Linked DNA regions of Homo sapiens: region 2 is linked to region 1. The links come from fine-mapping of genetic effects on gene expression. A gene starts in region 1. The other region holds a variant in brackets. All regions are shown on one strand. Distances are between the middles of the regions. Region 1 holds the start of HTATIP2 (HIV-1 Tat interactive protein 2). Region 2 overlaps NAV2 (neuron navigator 2).

What was found. PIP is the estimated chance that this variant, and not a neighbour inherited with it, causes the effect.
Region 2: its variant is the best candidate, but not a certain one, in a credible set for the expression of HTATIP2 in uterus (GTEx, PIP 0.74).

Annotation. Positions count from the first base shown.
Region 1 is chr11:20,361,976-20,366,365 of GRCh38, reverse strand. HTATIP2 (HIV-1 Tat interactive protein 2) reads right to left here and starts at 2,652. Exons shown (of 5, transcript NM_001098522.2): 1 at 1,934-2,652. The coding sequence starts at 2,128. RefSeq lists silencers at 2,303-2,445, 2,232-2,651.
Region 2 is chr11:19,845,056-19,849,445 of GRCh38, reverse strand. All of the region lies in intron 3 of NAV2 (neuron navigator 2), which reads right to left. Among named protein-coding and RNA genes, the nearest start is that of MIR4694, 87 kb to the right of the region's middle. The variant A/G (reference allele first, on the strand shown) is at 2,233.

The DNA.
Region 1 (4,390 bases):
TGGGAGGCTGAGGTGGGTGGATCACGAGGTCAGGAGATCGAGACCATCCTGGCTAACATGGTGAAACCCCGTCTCTACTAAAAATGCAAAAAAAAAATTAGCCGGTTGTGGTGGTAGGCACCTGTAGTTGCAGCTACTCGGGAGGCTGAGGCAGGAGAATGGCGTGAACCCAGGAAGCGGAGCTTGCAGTGAGCTGAGATCGCACCACTGCACTCCAGACTGGGCGACAGAGTGAGACTCCATCTCAAAAAAAAAAAAAAAAAAAAGAAAAGAAAAGAAAAGAAAAAGAAAAATAGGGTTTCACAAAGTACCTAGTCAAACAGATGTGCCACCAAAACTCGACACTCAAAACACAGATTTCAATTTGTTTCTTTTCTTTTTTTTTTTTTTTTTTTGAGACAGAGTCTCGCTCTGTCACCCAGGCTGGAGTGCAGTGGCACAATTTCTGCTCACTGCAACCTCCATCTCCTGGGTTCAAGTGATTCTCGCACCTCCGCCTCCTGAGTAGCTGAGATTACAGGCGTGCACCACCACGCCCAGCTAATTTCTGTATTTTTAGTAGAGACAGGGTTTCACCATGTTGGCCAGGCTGGTCTGGAACTCTTGACCTCAAGAGATCCCCTGCCTCGGACTCCCAAAGCTCTGGGATTACAGGCATGAGCCACCACGCCCAGCCTTCAGTTTCAGCTTCTAATTACCATGAATATCTGACACAGCCCATGAAACCGGTGAGAACACATCTGCCTCAGCCTGAGGAAAGATGTCTGTTTTAAATAAACAAGACTTGATGGACCAAAGGCATTCACACCATGACCTGAACACAGACCTGCGAGAATCAAGAACATTTATTTGCAAGATGGCTTGTTATTTGAAATGTTCTTTCTATGAAACCTGTGGGGCCAAATTCTGTAGCTGTGGTGTCTTGAGATCACACTATGTTAATTTGTTGCAGTTCACAGATAATTCCCTTTAAATAAAGAACAGAATCTCCAAGAAACTCAGGCTTCTGATATTTAGGGGGTCATGACAAGACAGAAGTCTGGTATATCATTCCTATAATCATAAAAGTGTAACTTAGGCTGGGCGCGGTGGCTCACGCCTGTAATCGCAGCACTTTGGGAGGCTGAAGCGGGAGCATCATCTGAGGTCAAGAGTTCGAGACCAGCCTGGCCAACATGGTGAAACCTTGTCTCGTCTCTACTAAAAATACAAAAGTTAGCCAGGAGTGGTGACGCACGCCTGTAGTTCCAGTTACTCGGGAGGCTGAGGCAGAAGAATCGCTTGAACCTGAAAGGCAGAGGTTGCACTGAGCCGAGATCGTGCCACTGCACTCCAGCCTGGGGGACAGAGTGAGACTCCGTCTCAGAAAAAAAAAAAAAAAAACCTTTAACTTAGAGTGAAGGGAATATCCGATTTACAGACACAAGCCTGGGAAGTCAGGCAGGGCAAATTCTTGTAAGTGAATAATCCCACCTTTCACTGCCATAGACCTATCTCACTCTGCAAAGCAGTTTCAGAATCCCTGACAATATTAGTGTGAAGTGCGCAGGTTGACAAAATCAGCAAAGTGGCTGAGAAAATTCTCAAGGTCACCAGGGCTGCCTCTAGAATACAGCTTGTATGACCCTGAAAACAGTGCTCTTCTGTCTCACCAGCCCCCACCCCCATTACAACCCAGACCCAGCTTTATAGGGTTGCAGATGGAGAGAAGGGCTTTGCCCAAGACCACACAATGAGCGGGAGGGAGGCACACCTGGGCTACAATCCAGGAGTCAGACTTCTGGGAGGGACTCTCACAGACCAATCTTGGCCAAGTTTTGATGGCCTCTCACTACCCCCACCACTGGCAGGGCAGTATTCAGCCTTTAGGCATGAAATATGTTCACCTCGCAGAATCCTGGGGGTCCATTTGAGTCCCAGCTGAAATACCCACCACATTTTTATAAGCTTCCTCGTCGAAGGTGAGCTTCCTCCGGCCAATGAGCGTGACTTTGGAAAACAGGCCCTGCTCCAGGATTTCCTTTAAGAGCACTCTGCCGGTTTCTCCGCTGGCGCCCAAAATAAAGACGGATTTATTCTGCATCCTGAAGTCTTCCCGAAGCTTCGACAGGGCTTCTGTTTCGGCCATGCTGGGGAAATAACATCGACAGATGCCGGTCTTAGGGTGTCAGGGGACTGCCAGTCCTTATCCCGAGGAACAAGGGCTGTTTATCTGTTAGGGAGGAGGATATTGTTCTCCGCAGTCCGGGCTCTGGGGAAAGTGCTGAGTCACGTGCGGGGCGCGGCTCCCCGGCCATCGCCCGCACCTGAGCCAGCAGACCCATCGGAAGGGGCCCGAGCTGGAGGGTGCGCCCAGGTGCCACAAGCTGCTGGCATCACTGGGCATACCCCACGGTATCCCCGGCCCGGCCAGGAGACCTGGCCCAGCTCGGTCCCATACGCGGAGGGGTTACCTGGGGCCAGCCCCCGGCCCCGGGTCCTCACGACGCAGCAGGAGCAGGGCGGCCGCCAGAGCAGCCGCCGCCGCCGCGCTCAGCGCCGCAGGCCCGGCCATCAGAGCATCCCACCTTCCCTGGTCGGACCGGGGGGGTTGGAGGCGACGGAGACAGCGCCTACCCGGCTTGGTCTTCCGGGTGGCCTCGCGGCGACGCTGCCTCGCCCCGCCCACAGGGGCGGGACCTGGAGACGAACTCCTGGCACCCTCACAGGCGCGGGGAAGGTGACCCCGAGAGCACGTGCGCGGAGCCGCGACCCTTCCTAAGTTTGGAATCTGCAAGACCCTCTTCCCGCGTTTTCCCTCACCTGCTGGGCTCAGCTCACCCAGGCGCCAGCTAGTAGACTTGCCAGACTTGATCTTCAATGGTCCCCCCAGCTGGAATGTCAATTGTATATTGGCCATCATCTCAAATTCACCAAGTCAAAAACTTAACCCTGCCTACCCAACCACCCCAAACAGGAATAAAACAAACCTATTCCTAGCCTCTCTTGGGTGTCACTGTCCCTACATAAACATACACACACACACGCACACACACACACACCTCCTTCTACCCTGTCAAGTCAGAAATCAGGATTCCTTTGATTCCTTTCTTTTCTAGCCTTTCCACACTACAGACTTATCAAGTCCTGTTATCCCATCTGCCTTACAAATATTTCTCCCATGTAATTCAAGCTCGCATCATATCTCCCCAGAATAAATGGTCTACCTGCCCAGGTCCTGGCCTAATTCATCACCTAGATGGTTGAACCCGGGTGACCTTCCACACCTGTGATTCAGTCTTCCTAGCCCAGATCAGTGGTTTGGGACACAGGTATCTACACTGGGCCTGTCCTGGATCTTGGAAGTCCTGAACAGAGGTTAGAATGACAAGCAGAAATCTGAATAATTTCAGATTGTTCAGGTTTTGTTGGGAACATTGGTCATTTGGGGGCCCCACCTCCCATCTAGAAGCCAATGAAACACATTGCCTCTTCCATCTCCATGGGAGTTATTATATGTAGGCTTTGCCTAGGCTCAGCAAGCCAGAGGCTCACGCATAGGTTTTCAGTTTTGGAGGAGTAATGAAAAGATGCAGTGAAGGCCTGAGATATATGTGGGTTGGTTGGGGCAAGGGTATAGGATTATGGCATCATATGATCCACCAGCCATCTGATGGTCTGATCTTGTCTTAAATTCCTGCCTGTTTTCAGAGACTGTTGTGAATACAGTACTTCCTGTTATTCTTCTGATAAATTCCTGTGCTGTATAAGCTTACCAGATATATTCTGTTGTTTGCAATAAAAAAGCTTGATTAATATAGAGCAGTGTGGTTCATTCCCCACTGGCCTGTCACAGTGCCTGGACTCTTCCCTTTGAGTTCCTAAAGGTTTTCTACAAGAATGCAATGTTAAACCTTGTCAGCAAACACTGTCCTAGTAATTCATTTATCAAATCTGTCACAGAAATTATTCATTGTACCCTGTCTATTCTTCCCCTTTGTTTAAAATTGTGGCATAATTAATATACAATAAAATGTACAGAACCTAAAGGTTCTGTTCCATGATTTTAGGAGATTGTATATACACCTAAATAACCACCACCAAAAACAAGATATAGAGCATGTCTGCCATCCCTGAAAGTGCCTTCATTCCCTTCTTGCAATCTCTCCCCACTCCAGAGGTAATCACTTTCTGGTCACTATCAACATAGATTAGTTTTGCCTGTTGTAGAATTCTATTTAAGAGTACAGCATGTACTCTTTTGTGTCCCAGGTTTTTGGCTTAACACATATTTTAGTATTTATTCTTGTTTGTAGGCCTGCATTATGATTTCTATGGGCCCTAAGCACTTCATGAGCCCCTTCATTTTATGTACACACACTATATAATCAAAAATTATGTCTTATGACTA
Region 2 (4,390 bases), 520 kb after region 1:
CTGCCCCTGTTTCAGCTTTCATGTTGCCATCAGCAGGTCAACTCAGGCCCTTTCCAGAAATGTTCCATCTCCTCCCTTTTTGCTAACTCTCAGCTAAACCTAACTGGTTCTGCTGTAGCTGCAGATGAAAACTAAGGAGAACACGGCTTGGTGAGGTGGAGACTATTTTTATGATACCCCTTCTCTGTCACAGAGGTAAACACCATATCTCTGAAAATAGACTTGGGTTCGAGCTCCAACTCTGCCTCTCCCTAGGTAAAGAATCTGGGACCACGAGCACCCTTTTAAATCCTCAGTCCCCATGTACAAAATATAGACAATAACTGCATCTTTATCATAGGGCTGTTTTGAGTGATTGAGTAGGCTCTCAGCACATAGTCTGGTGCATAGTGAGTGATCAATAAATGTTAGCTCATTAAAATCTCATGGTAACCCTGCGAGGTGTTGTTCTCTTCCACATTTCTCACAGAAGGAAGTGAAGTGCTAAGGCCAAGTGGATTATCCAGGGCCACTTATGATGGGACTGAGCGAGACTGACCACAGTGTTCTGTGACATGAGATCTCTCAGGGGTTTCCTTTGAGTCCAGTGCTATCATTCAGAGAGATGTAGGCATACAAATGAATTCAAACCCCACTAAACAAGCCCCCACCCAAAAGCAGAGTTGGCTGTTCCCGAGGCATGTCTGTTTTTTAACAAATACTTAAGTCCCTTGAAAAATCATCAAAAGAGCTAACATCTACTGAGGCCAGCAACTCTGTGGCCAGCAACGTGCCAGCACTTCATGTAGATTGTCTCATGGAAGCCTTAAAACAACCCCATGAGGCAAATACTGTTACTACCTCTGTTATAGGAACTGGCTCCCTTAGAGACTAAGGGACACACCTGGGTTACAAGCAGTTGGCCTTCCCAGCCCTTGCTCTCAGCTGTGATGCCTTGCAGAGGTCAGAGGTAAGACCTAATCCGACTTCACAGAAAAGAGACTGAGGAGGACCAGAGAAAGGAGGGCTGGAGCCAAGAGCAGAGCTGAAACCTGACACTGCCATGTTCCTTCCTAGGCTACATCCCGCTGCATCTCCCCAGGTGCTGGCCTCCTGCAAGGGGCAGCTATGGTGGCCCTGTCCTGGGCTACCTACCCCTACTTATAGCAGCTTTTATCACTCATATATGGGGTTCCACAGCTTTTATTTGGGAAAATGAGGGGTTCTGCTTATGGAATAGAAGTTAGAAAATCACTGCCTGGCCCTTCTCTGTGCCTAAGTGCAGATTCCTACTGTCTTAGGAACTCCAGTGCTGGCATTTTCCATAGAGCTCCCTGAAAGGACAGGGTGAGAAGAAGGGCTGTGCTCTATGCAGCAGGGGCACCAAACCTGGAGTCTATGGAGCCCCAGGGCATACATGAGCTGGCCTCTGGGGTTCATGATCTGCTCAGGTTGTATGCAAAATTCTGGGATAAGTGCAATTTGGGGAGGAGAGAGCTAGAAGATTTCTGAAGGGTTCTCAGATTTCCAAAAGGTTCTATGTCCCCCAAAACATGAATGATCACTGAAAGAAATCTTCATTATCGTAGTAACTGCCATATACTGAGTGCTGATTATATGCCAGGAGAATAGGGATAATAAGATCACCCGCATCAAAGGGCTGTTGGGAGGATGAACTAAGGGGACATGCTGTATTTGTAAAGCACTTAGAATGGTGCTTGGCACAAGACAAACACTGTAAGCTTTGGTTATATTTTATCACTTTAATTAATATTATCCATTATTATCATTTTCATTGCCTCATTAGTCTTCATGAAATCTTTATGAGGTATGTATTATTATCAACCCCACTTCATAGAACAGGAAATATGAGGCTTCAAAGAGTCAAGTAATTAGCTCAAGGCTGCAGAATAGCAGAAAAGGAATTAGAAACCTGGCCTGGCTGGTCCCCAAGCTCAGGCTGGCCCTCCGTCTAGATGCACTGAGGGAAGAAGGCAGGAGGACTCCTTGAAGAGCCCAGGAGGAAGCAGGGGCTCAGCGCTGGGAGGCTCAGCTGACCCCAGGTCCAAGATCAGCTAAAGGGGAAAGCAGGCCTGGGGCTTTTTTGCTGAAAAGGCAAGCAAGCCTCCCTAACTTTGCACTTCTCCTAATCAACAACAGACAGCCAAGCTGCTTAAAATAATAATGATGAAAAAAGAAAACCACCCCCTGCCACTGGCTATTCCCAGGCTCCAAAGTGAGCCAATGCCCCCA[A/G]TGTCCTGAGTACAGTGAGTTCAAATTGGGAAGCAGGGCCGCCCCAGCACCCACTGGCTAACCTCCAAGCAATGTTTTTCCTTCCACACTAACAGATAACTCTGCTGAACACACCACTTGAAAGCCAAAGAGATGCCCCTTGGTTGCCATGGCAATGTTAAATAGACAAAACATTTTAACCAGCTCTGACGCACACACGCAAACTTATTTAAGGGCCAAGGGGATGAATTTGGTGGGGGAGAGGGAATGGGGTGGGAGTGTTGTTTCTAAAGCTCCATCTCCAAGGATTTGGCCCCAAAAGCATCTGGGTCAGACTGAAACAGGGCAAAGCGCTCCTTAAAAACAAGCCAAGGCTGGGCTTGCTCCAGGAAAGGGAAGCCACTGCTGTGCCTCTCTGCCTTTGGGTTACAGACCTGGTGCCATTTTACCAGGGCCAAGAGGAGGGCGGCACTGAGGGTTACAAATGCTGATGGAAAAGCATCAGGCTTGAGTCCTGGGGAGAGCATCTCCGTTTCTCACCCAAAAGGTGTGAGTGTTATGCCAGCCCACAGCAGAGTCAGGAGGACTGAATGTGTGATGGGCTCATAAGCCTTAAAGCACTGTGTAGATGCGTATTAGTGCTAATATAAAAATATTAACAGCCGTTTCCAACCGGGTTGTGTTTCCATTTCCCAAATTTCATGGCTGAACTTCTGTCCACAGGAATTGATGACCTCGAATTTTTTCCTTTAGAAAACTTTGTTCTGAGGTTTCTCCCCCATATGCAGGAATCTGTGTGATGAAGCATGCACAAGGCTTGTCCCAGGTCTGAAAAGACCTCTGTGCCTATGAGTCTGTTGTACTGTGGGCTCTTCCATGCCCCTCCTTTCACCCCAGGTACAACAGGACAAGGAGTTGATGCTGCCCAGAGGCTAGAAGAGCCTCACCAGACACAGTTCATGGCAATTTGGTACAATCAATGGATGATTGTTTGTAAAACCTTCCTCTGTGGGATCCATGATTTCCTCAAGTAAACCCATTCTCCAGAAATGGGTTCCATGCCTGGCTGTCTCCACTTGGAATCCTCTTCCACCCATCATCTCTTGTGGTGAACTCTCTGACCTTTCAAGACTCACCCTTTAGAAGTTATTTAGGAACCTTCCTTGCCCTGGGGGTAGAATGGGTCTCCACAGTGCCATGCACAGGTGTCTGTGGGAGCAGCTGCAATAGTCTATTCTTCTAATTGTTCTCTGGTCTCTTGCCCACTTATCTGAGTTCTTTGAGGGCAGGGATCACATCTTGGTCACCTGTGTATTCAGCTTGGCCTAGTCCAGCATCTCACATTAGTAGGCACTCTGTGACTGCTTGCTGATTGACAGTCTAAAAGTACACAATGCCAAGCCCATTATGATTATGCACTGCTGCCCCTGGAATCCTCTAGGTCATATTCCACAAATGTCTGCTTTTACTTCCCTATCCTCTGGGAAGACAGCAGGAGTTACAGCAGAGAACAGAGCAGCTGGGCAGCCTAGTGGGTTAGGAAGAGTGAAGGGAGGGAGGAAAAGGTGCCTTCTTCCAGGGCTTGCTCCTCCTACAAAGCTCATGCTCCTAACCTACTCTTGAGCTGAGGATACAAACTGACCCACTGAAAACTGGAATAGCACCCACTCCATTCCTGCTCTGAAATAAAACTCCTTTTGTCTCTATTATTAAAGGGCCCTAAAGGTGCTCTATCTGTTTTCTTAGGGAGTGACCGCATTAACTCTATGCTGATTATTTTTTTTTCCTAGCAGAGCCCATTACCCTCCTAACAGGATACACTTCCCAAGTTCTCATCTCATTGTGTGTCATCTTCCTTCTGCCATGCTTTCTACATATCTTCTCCTTTGGTATCCTCCAAACAGGCAATATTTAGCGAACAACAAATGTTTATTATTGGCCACCCAGATAAAGTCTAATTGGGAGGTTAACCACCTAGCAATCTAGAAATGGTGGCTCACACCCTATGCCATCTTCTCAAATTATACTTCCCATGAGCAAAAGTGCTTTAACTCTATATATGCTTGTGTGCACACAGGTGTCCTATTAGCCAGAAAATCATCCATGCCTGTCTATCGAAAGAACTTCCTGTGTGATCTAGTGAGTTCTGCCTTATGAACTTGTCATTGTTTTGTGATGT